Homo sapiens: one gene and its partner. The protein of the gene in region 1 interacts with the protein of each later gene in a biochemical or structural test. Each region holds a gene or a part of one and is shown in the gene's direction. Other genes may lie near its edges.

The links.
Region 2: of the proteins of FBXO33 (region 1) and YBX1, one has a biochemical effect on the other in vitro, tested with the Homo sapiens proteins (one study listed by BioGRID).

The regions. Positions count from the first base shown.
Region 1 is NC_000014.9:39,424,682-39,430,233, reverse strand, and holds part of FBXO33 (F-box only protein 33), read left to right. Parts: intron 1-5,552. UniProt on the Homo sapiens protein: Substrate recognition component of a SCF (SKP1-CUL1-F-box protein) E3 ubiquitin-protein ligase complex which mediates the ubiquitination and subsequent proteasomal degradation of target proteins. Probably recognizes and binds to phosphorylated target proteins.
Region 2 is NC_000001.11:42,699,389-42,703,021, forward strand, and holds part of YBX1 (Y-box-binding protein 1), read left to right. Parts: intron 1-1,392; coding exon 1,393-1,627; 3' UTR 1,628-1,658; intron 1,659-2,592; 3' UTR 2,593-3,633. UniProt on the Homo sapiens protein: DNA- and RNA-binding protein involved in various processes, such as translational repression, RNA stabilization, mRNA splicing, DNA repair and transcription regulation.

The DNA.
Region 1 (5,552 bases):
TGGTTTTATCTGGCAGGAGAGGCCATTGAAGCTAAAAACAGATTAGGTTAGAGACTTTCTCAGAGTTGAATGTATGGCTAGAGGACCAACTGACCCAAAAGTTGCAAAGTTTCAGTCAGTGAGCACTTACTAATGAGACCAAGGTTGAGGGTGAATTCAATGAGTGAGTACCAATTAGATTTTTCTGTACTGAGATCAAATTGCACTTTTATGCAACCATGCAAACACTGTATGTGCCTTTGACCCAAGTAAGAACAAGACTTGATAAGTGTCTAGTTCCTTTTAAGTATTTTAATAACTGGTTGGTTGGATGGGTGGATAACATACAGGCAAAATGGAGATATTTCACATCTTTGCTTTGTAGCTTAATTCTCCTGTCCTTCTCTTCCTTACCCCTACAATTTTTATTAGCATCCCAATCTGCTTCTCTATAAGGCCACCGATGCCTGCCCTTCTGGGTCAGCTATCACTTCTATGCAAAAACATCACACCCGTCATCCCTAATTTTAAGGTTTGCTTGTCATCTACTATTAGCATGGTGTTGTATGTCATGCTGCTTTGGTAGCATATTCATTCTGTTTGTCTCAAAATGTAGTGTAATTGCATGTTGTTTGTACTAATGATACATCAAAGGGTTTTTGGAAATAAGTTAATCTCATCTTTACTGTTGAAAGTGTTTTGAGATACTCTGTGATATTGGAAAAGTTAATATGAATATTAAATCCATAAATAAGACTAGTTTCCTTTAAATTTTAACAAATCTGAAAATGTTTTAAACCACATTGTTTATCAGTGACTAGTAAAGCCTATTATTTCTTTCTATAATCACTTAAACTATAGACTTGGGACATTTGACATTGCTCTTTACATTTCCAAGTTAAATTTACAATGGTTTTGCTTTATGATTTCTGCCATTCTATAAGTAGAAAAGAGGGGGTGTGAATCATACCAGATCATAAGCATTCTGCTTCCAGGCTTTGTGCTGAATTCCTTTATACAGTTCATACAATTCAGACTGTTATTTTGTTTTGTTCCAGTTATTTTCATGTCCCTCAGGAAAATAATTAAAAGTATAAACTTGAATTGTGTGAACTTTTCAAGGGTGCTGATCTTCAGAGAGGACAATTGGCATTTTGTTTTGCTTGGTTCCTGGGTTATATATATACATGTATTCTCATAGTGATTATAGTTGCCATACCTGTATCTTAGGTTTTAGGAACAACTAATAAGGATAAAGAAGGTGCATAAGTGCCTCTCTGAGGGTAACACACAGTCCTTCACGTTTCAGAAATTCCTTCTCTACAGGGCACTAGGATACCTGTCTTCTTCATTAATAGTAAGAACAGAGGGGCAGTAAGTACTCATTCAACTGTATTTTAGGTCACATAGGCTGAATTTCTCTGCAGTCGTTCTATAAGAAATTGTACCTAGAAGTGCAAACAACAAATAGATATAAATGCATTTTTAGCATTTAATCCAGTTGTCAGGTTGGGTACTGCCTATTAAAATGCTGTATTTCAGACTCCTTAGGAAAAACGAGAGCTCATGGTAAGATTTATGATAATAGGTAATAGACTCAGTCACTAAAAATACCTGAAGAGTAGCCATAGGCACATTGTCTTCATCTGGTTTATGCTTCTATGGGCTGTATAAATGTTTTACATAAGCTTTTCTTGGGTGGAATGCTGTTAGGGGCAGTACTTTTTTGTTGTTGTTGAGAATTCATATCGTTGGCCAGGGGTGGTGGCTCACACCTGTAATGACAGCACTTTCTGGGAGGCCGAGACGGGTGGATCACTTGAGGTCAGGAGTTCGAGACCAGCCTGGTCAATATGGCAAAACCCCATCTCTTTTAAAATACATAGCCGGGTGTGGCAGTGCATGCCTGTAATCCCAGCTACTCAGGAGGCTGAGGCAGTAGAATCGCTTGAAGTCAGGAGGCAGAGGTTGCAGTGAATAGAGATCGTGCTACTGCACTCCATCCTGGGTGACAGAGCCAGACTCCGTCTCAAAAAAAAATTTAAAAAAAAAGAATGCATATTGTAACAGACCAGAGAAATTTTGTACAAGATTGATTTTCTTTTTAAGATTCTGGGTACAGCTCTAACTGCTTGTATGTAGATTGACCATTTCATGACTGTGTCTGCTTATATATCCTGTAAGTTAAAAAGGATCTATTAATAATACTTAGATTTGGGTCTTGTTGATTTGGCATGCACAGTGAAGGAGAATCTTACCTTTGTATTGTTTCCTACCAAGAAACAATAATAAAGACATTTAAAAATATTTTGAGACAGAGTCTTGCTCTGTGACTCAGGATGGAGCAATCATGATCATAGCTCACTGCAGCCTCAAATTCCTGGGCTCAAATGATCCTCCCACCCCAGCCTCCCTAGTAGCTAGGACTACAGGCATGCACCACCATGCCTGGCTGATATATATATTTTTTTAATTTTGTGTAAAGACAGGATCTCACTGTGTTGCCCAGGCTGGTCTCTAATACCTGGCCTCATATGATTCTCCCATTTCTGCCTCCTAAGGTGCTGGGATTACAGGTGTGATCCCCTGCACCCTGCCTAAAAATGCATTTTAAAATGGGTTAAAAATTCCCTGGACATTTCAGATTACTACCTAAGATGGTAGAAAATGCCTTGAAGGTATTATCTCCAACAGTTTTTAGCCTTATTTTTCTTGAAATATTTCTCCTGTGGTAGTATAATAAATATGTCTAACAATGTTTCATCTCTGAGAGTTTACTTTGTTATTATTTACTTTAAAAAGCCCATTTACAGAATAAATATATTAAAATATACTGGGCCTGTGACCAATCTGCCCTGTTCAAGAATTAGTTTCCTGTGACACTGCATTCCCAGCAGGCTCCTTACCTAAAAACTGAAAAAGAGGCTCCTTAGGGATAGCCTCAAAGTTACTGAGAAGGAAAGCTAAAGAAACTAACCTCCTGGAAGGCTGTTATGAGAGGTTTTAGGACTTTTTATTCCACAGCTGTATTGGCAACTGATAGATGGAATAGGGTGTAAAACTCAAGGAAAAAAAAGTTAAAATTTTTTGACTGTGTTAAATGAGGGTGTTAAGCAGCTTTTGAGTGGAGTGATTAAATATCTCCATTTTAATTTGTTAGTTCTGAGGCAGCCTTGGGAGAGTTCACCAAACTTGACCAATTTATTTAGGAGCTAAAATGATAGTTATAGAAAATCTAGGGTTTTTTCCTCCAATTATTGAGAGCGTACTATGTGCCAGGCGGGGAAGACATGCTTCCCGTTCTCACGGAGTCATTCTAGAGGAGGAAGGAAGACAGAAACAAGTAGACAAAGGAAAGAAGGATTATTTCAGGTTGTGAAAATAAAATCTGAAAATAAAACAGAAGGATGTAATAGTCACTAGGTGGCAACATTAGGTAAAGTGTCAGGGAAACCTCTTTTGAGAAGGATATTTGAGCTGCAGCATGAATAACAAGCGTTGCCCATCTGAAGATCTGAGCAAATAGCATTCCACACACAAGAAACAGTAAGCGCTAAGGTCTTGAGCCAGACAAATTTTTGGTCTGTTCGAGCAGTGGAAAAGAAAGTGTGACAGGGCTGTGGCAAGTGAGGATGAAAATGATGCCATGATGAGTTCTGAGAAGTAGAAGAAGGAAGAATTGGGGTTAGGTAGGCTTATTTAATGAAGTTTGGAATATATTCCAAGGATAGAAGAAGTCACTGAAAAAAATTTTAAGGACAAGAATAATGTGATATCATTTGCATTTTAAGACAATCACCCTGGCCATTTTATGAGCGACTTAGGGACCAAGAGAGAAAGTAGGGGGACAAGTTGGGAAGCTTTTACTGTACTCTAAGCAAGAGATGATGGTAGCTTGAACTATGATGGAGGCAGGAGAGATGAAAAAAAGTGGATGGATTTTGGAAGTATAGCCCAGAGTACTCACCAGTTAGATGTGGGTAGTAAGACAAAAGGAAAAAACAATATTTTTTCATCATTTCTTTCTCACTCGATTTTCTTGTCCTTATTATTGTTAAAATTATCTTTTAATAGCATGTTAAAAAAATAAATATGAAAAAATAAAATAAAAAATAAATAAATAAATAATTTTTAAAAATAGCATGTTAAATAACAACCGCAAGTGTTCATTTTATTTAAATACACCTTTTGTGTGTAACCTTCGGGATTTGGGGATGGTAGTTATTCTTAGATTAGGGGATGGTAATTCTTAGATGGAATTGTAAGTTCTGGGAAATAACTTCTGGTTAATGGGTCCCAAAGCTAATACGGAGTACTGTTATAGGCCGGTTATTTATTTCTGGGTTCTAATGTTGTACTGTCAAATATGGCAGCCAGTAGCTACAGATAGCTATTTAAATTTTAAATAGATAAAATTAAAGACCCCATTAGTTCCACTAGCCACATTTCGAGCGCTCAATAGTCACATATGGCTAGTGACTGCTATATTGTACAACAAAGAATAGTACACTTCCATCCATAGAAGAAAACTACTGGACAACACATCTCTAAACTATTTGTGTTCGTTTGATTTGGCTATGACCGTTCATTAGCATTTTTGAGGAAAGGAAATAATGTTATTAAAAAAGTATAATGTGGATGTTAAAACATGATACTGAAAGTGGACTAAGAAGAATAGAACCAGCCCAAGAGAATTTCATGCAATGATGGTGGATTATTTTAGCTTTTATTAATTTAAAAAAGGAAAAAAGTTATATGTCATTATCTCTTTTATGGCATTGGAAAAGATTTTAATGTTTTTAAGAGCATCTTTTTAAAGAACCATGTTCTTTTATGTTTCCATAACTAATTCTTCTTAGCTGTAATAACTCTTAAGGTGGCTGCATTTTGCATTTTTCTATTGTTCCTGTGTATTAAATCAAAGAAATAATTTTGGATCCTCTGGAATGAAAAGAAACTTAACAAAGTTTACTACCATAGATGAAGTTCCCCAATTCTGACCCACAGAAGAGAGAACAAGGTCATCAGGCCTGAAATCTCAAGCACTGGGTCACAATTGTGCTAAACAGTCCTAACAGGAGTCTGAGAAGAATAATAAGACAATAAAAAATTGTGATGGTTGTTTAATTCATAAGGAAATTCTTGTGCAGTATAGAAAACAAGATATCTCATTTCAGTGGAATTTTAATAAACTTTTTTTTTTTGAGATGGAGTCTCACTCTCTCACCAGGCTGGAGTGCAGTGGCATGATCTCGGCTCACTGCCACCTCTGACTCCCAGGTGGAAGCGATTCTCCTGCCTCAGCCTCCCAAGTAGCTGGGATTACAGGATGCACCACCACGCCCAGCTAATTTTTGTATTTTTAGTAGAGACGGGGTTTCACCATATTGGCCAGGATGGTCTCAATCTCCCAACCTCATGATCCGCCTGCCTTGGCCTCCCAAAGCGCTGGGATTACAGGCCTGAGTCACTGCACCCAGCCTTAACATACATACTTAAGTTGTATGTTTTCTATTTTCTGTTTCCACAGCTAATTAGACTTAGCTATATTAACTCTCATATAAGGTAGCTGC
Region 2 (3,633 bases), on another chromosome or scaffold:
AAATTAGAAGTGAGTTCACCCAGCTTGACTCTGTGTTTCTAGCCATTTGGGCATCAGGCTCAGGTTGGGCAGAGAGTTGGATTTATCCAGATTTGGTTTATCCAGATCTGGTTTGATTTATCCAGATCTGGTTTATCCAGATGAAGACACTGGGGTAGGGATTGGTCATATGATTAGTGGTAGACTTTATACTTGGATAAAGAGGGGAGAAAAGGGGAAAATGAGGGTTGTTTTTTTTTTTTTAAATTGTTTTGTAGAAATGGAGTTGCACTGTGTTACTCAAGCAGTCTTGAACTCCTGCCCTCAAGTGATCCTCCCCAAGTGCTAGGATTACAGGTGTGAGCCACTGTGCCCAACCTTGGAGTGAGATGAATAGGTGATAGAATCGCTGTATTACAGGTCCTAGATTAAGAATGAGAAAACAATAAGGAATTACCTAAGAAAAATAGGAAGGTACATAATTGGAAAGTTGAGTGGTATAATTGAAAAAACCCAGGTAGAAAACAGCTGGACTGGGAGGTCAGTCTGAAAGCCCAGGTTATTAGAAGCTGTTACACTCGAACCTTAGTAATAACTGCAGTAAGAAAAAGATAGTAAATGGAGCAGAATCCAAAATAAGATGGAAAGCCTAGTTTTTAGAAACTGGGAGAGTTGATTTAGAAGCCACAATAAGGTTAGAACAGTCACCACTGTAGGGTTGCAGAGAAAAGTCAGAACAATTTTGTTGAAGATTCATCATGAGTTCCAAAAGATGTGGGGAAAGAGTTTTAGAATGTACAAAGGTAAATGTGAATTTATTCCCATGATGACTCATGGATACTAAAGGCCTGGGGCTTTCTGGAGTGCTCAGAGTATGGGCAGAGGAAAGGCCAGGAATCCATCATTTCTGAGCACTGGGGGAAAGAAAATCCCAAAATTTAGTATCTTTATCTTGGTGATTAAAAGACTCAAGCCTGTAATCCCAGCACTCTTTGGGAGGCCAAGGAGGGAGGATAGCTTGAGGTCAGGAATTCAAGACCAGCCTTGGAAACATAGCAACACATCGCTACTAAAAATCAGACATTAATGAGACGTGGGGGGCTTGCCTATAGTCCCAGTTACTCAGGAGTCTGAGGTGGGAAGATCACTTGAGCCTGGGAGATTGAGGCCACAGTGAGCTGTCATCATTCCATGGCACTTTAGTCTGGGCAACAAAGCAAGACTCTTCCCCCTACTCAGCATCCCCCCCCCCCCAAAAAAAAAAACCCATCTCTTTACACAAATTGCCTACAGACCACTTGATACAGAATGGGCCAGACATGGTGAGTTAGTTGTGAACCAACTGGTTACACTGGTGGGTGTGTTGAAGAGAGAAGGTTTTATCATTCTTAAGTTTGACACCGTTCATTGCAGGGGCCCTCCTCGCCAAAGACAGCCTAGAGAGGACGGCAATGAAGAAGATAAAGAAAATCAAGGAGATGAGACCCAAGGTCAGCAGCCACCTCAACGTCGGTACCGCCGCAACTTCAATTACCGACGCAGACGCCCAGAAAACCCTAAACCACAAGATGGCAAAGAGACAAAAGCAGCCGATCCACCAGCTGAGAATTCGTCCGCTCCCGAGGCTGAGCAGGGCGGGGCTGAGTAAATGCCGGCTTACCATCTCTACCATCATCCGGGTAAGCAAGCTTGGATGGCCATCCATTTATGGCAGTCGTGAGTGGTGACCATTTCGTTTTATTAATGCAAGAGTAGAAAAACCTCAGTTCCATCAGATAATGAAAGCCATGTTATTTATAATGTGTTCTGCCCTATTCTTAATTACCTAATATTTCATTTTAGGAATATTGAATATCAGAGTCATATTTGGCCACCCTTCAGCTAGTTCTCAATTCTGACACTGGAGACCTGTATTTTCATGAGTATTTTGAACTATTAGTGCTTTCTATCAACTTTTCTGAATGAATTTTATGATTTCACTAGTAAACAGAGGAAAGTTTTGCTAGCTGTATTCTGAGAAATATGTTAATTACATTATTATTTATGCATTATTTCAAAAAGGAAGTGGGGATAGCTGTTAGAATTAACCTAGATGGTGACAAATAGAGTCTGTTTGGAGAAAGTGGCAACATTAATATAATCTTTTAATCATTTCTAATTGTTTTTTTTTTTTGTTGGTTTATGTTGTTCCCGGAAAAAGACGAGAGTGTTTCGTGTCTAAAAAACTCCTAGAATGACACGTGGTTTATCATGGTTTATTTAAACTGCCTGTAGATTAATAATAATAATTCTCTGGCAGACCACATGATACAATTACGTTCTTGTTACTTTAGCTCATTAGCTCACTTGTTTTTATTACCCTTAATTCCAAAATTAAGGGATTCTTTTTCATTTCGCTTTTTACATGATATCGAGAGGTACGTGATTGTTGTTCCCTCCAAAATTAGCATTCAACCAGTGGTGCTTTTGGTTTTTTCCCGTTTACTATTTGCTGGATGGCAAGAGATCTGTTAATGTCTCCCAATACACAAGTAATGTAAACTAGGGCATGTACTACACTAAATGAAGATCACCATGAATTCTACATGATCATCTTTATTTTTTTCTTTACAGTTTAGTCATCCAACAAGAAGAAATATGAAATTCCAGCAATAAGAAATGAACAAAAGATTGGAGCTGAAGACCTAAAGTGCTTGCTTTTTGCCCGTTGACCAGATAAATAGAACTATCTGCATTATCTATGCAGCATGGGGTTTTTATTATTTTTACCTAAAGACGTCTCTTTTTGGTAATAACAAACGTGTTTTTTAAAAAAGCCTGGTTTTTCTCAATACGCCTTTAAAGGTTTTTAAATTGTTTCATATCTGGTCAAGTTGAGATTTTTAAGAACTTCATTTTTAATTTGTAATAAAAGTTTACAACTTGATTTTTTCAAAAAAGTCAACAAACTGCAAGCACCTGTTAATAAAGGTCTTAAATAATTGTCTTTGTGTAAATTTGTCTAGTTTTGCTTTAGTTTGTAAGTATTTAGCTATTTATAGGACCCTTAGCTTGACCCAGTCTACAAATAGATGATGCTCACTGGTAATTCCCTCAGGTAAAATGTCTCAAAATCTCTAATCCTTTAAGTGGCATGCCTGTGGGCCCATACTAAAAATTAGAAAATACATACTCTGATAACCTGGCCATTTTTCATTGAAGGATTTAGCTCATTTGTAAGAAAGACTTGAGTGTAGATTTTGGGTGGGTCCCTTTGGCTGTGAGGCATTGTTTAAAAGGGCATTGCTCTAGCCTAGACCGACCAGACTCTCATCCTGCTCCACTTAGTTTTGTCACCTTGGGAGAATTTGTTTCAGTGTGTCAATTGAAGATGCCAATTGAAGTGTTAGGACAACCTGTCACACTGCCTGGTGTGGTCATCAAATATTGGTTCAGCTCCTTATGTCCTAGAGATGGAAACAAGTAATATAAAACCCATGGGAAAGCTGCTTAGGAACATGGAGGTTGGTGAGCTTGTAATTATGTGGTTCTCAACACCTTAAATCCTAAGCCTAGTCTGGCTGATCTTTTCTCTTTTTGAGACGGAGTCTTGTTCTGTCATCAGGCTGGAGTACAGTGGCACAATCTTGGCTCACTGCAACCTCCACCTCTAGG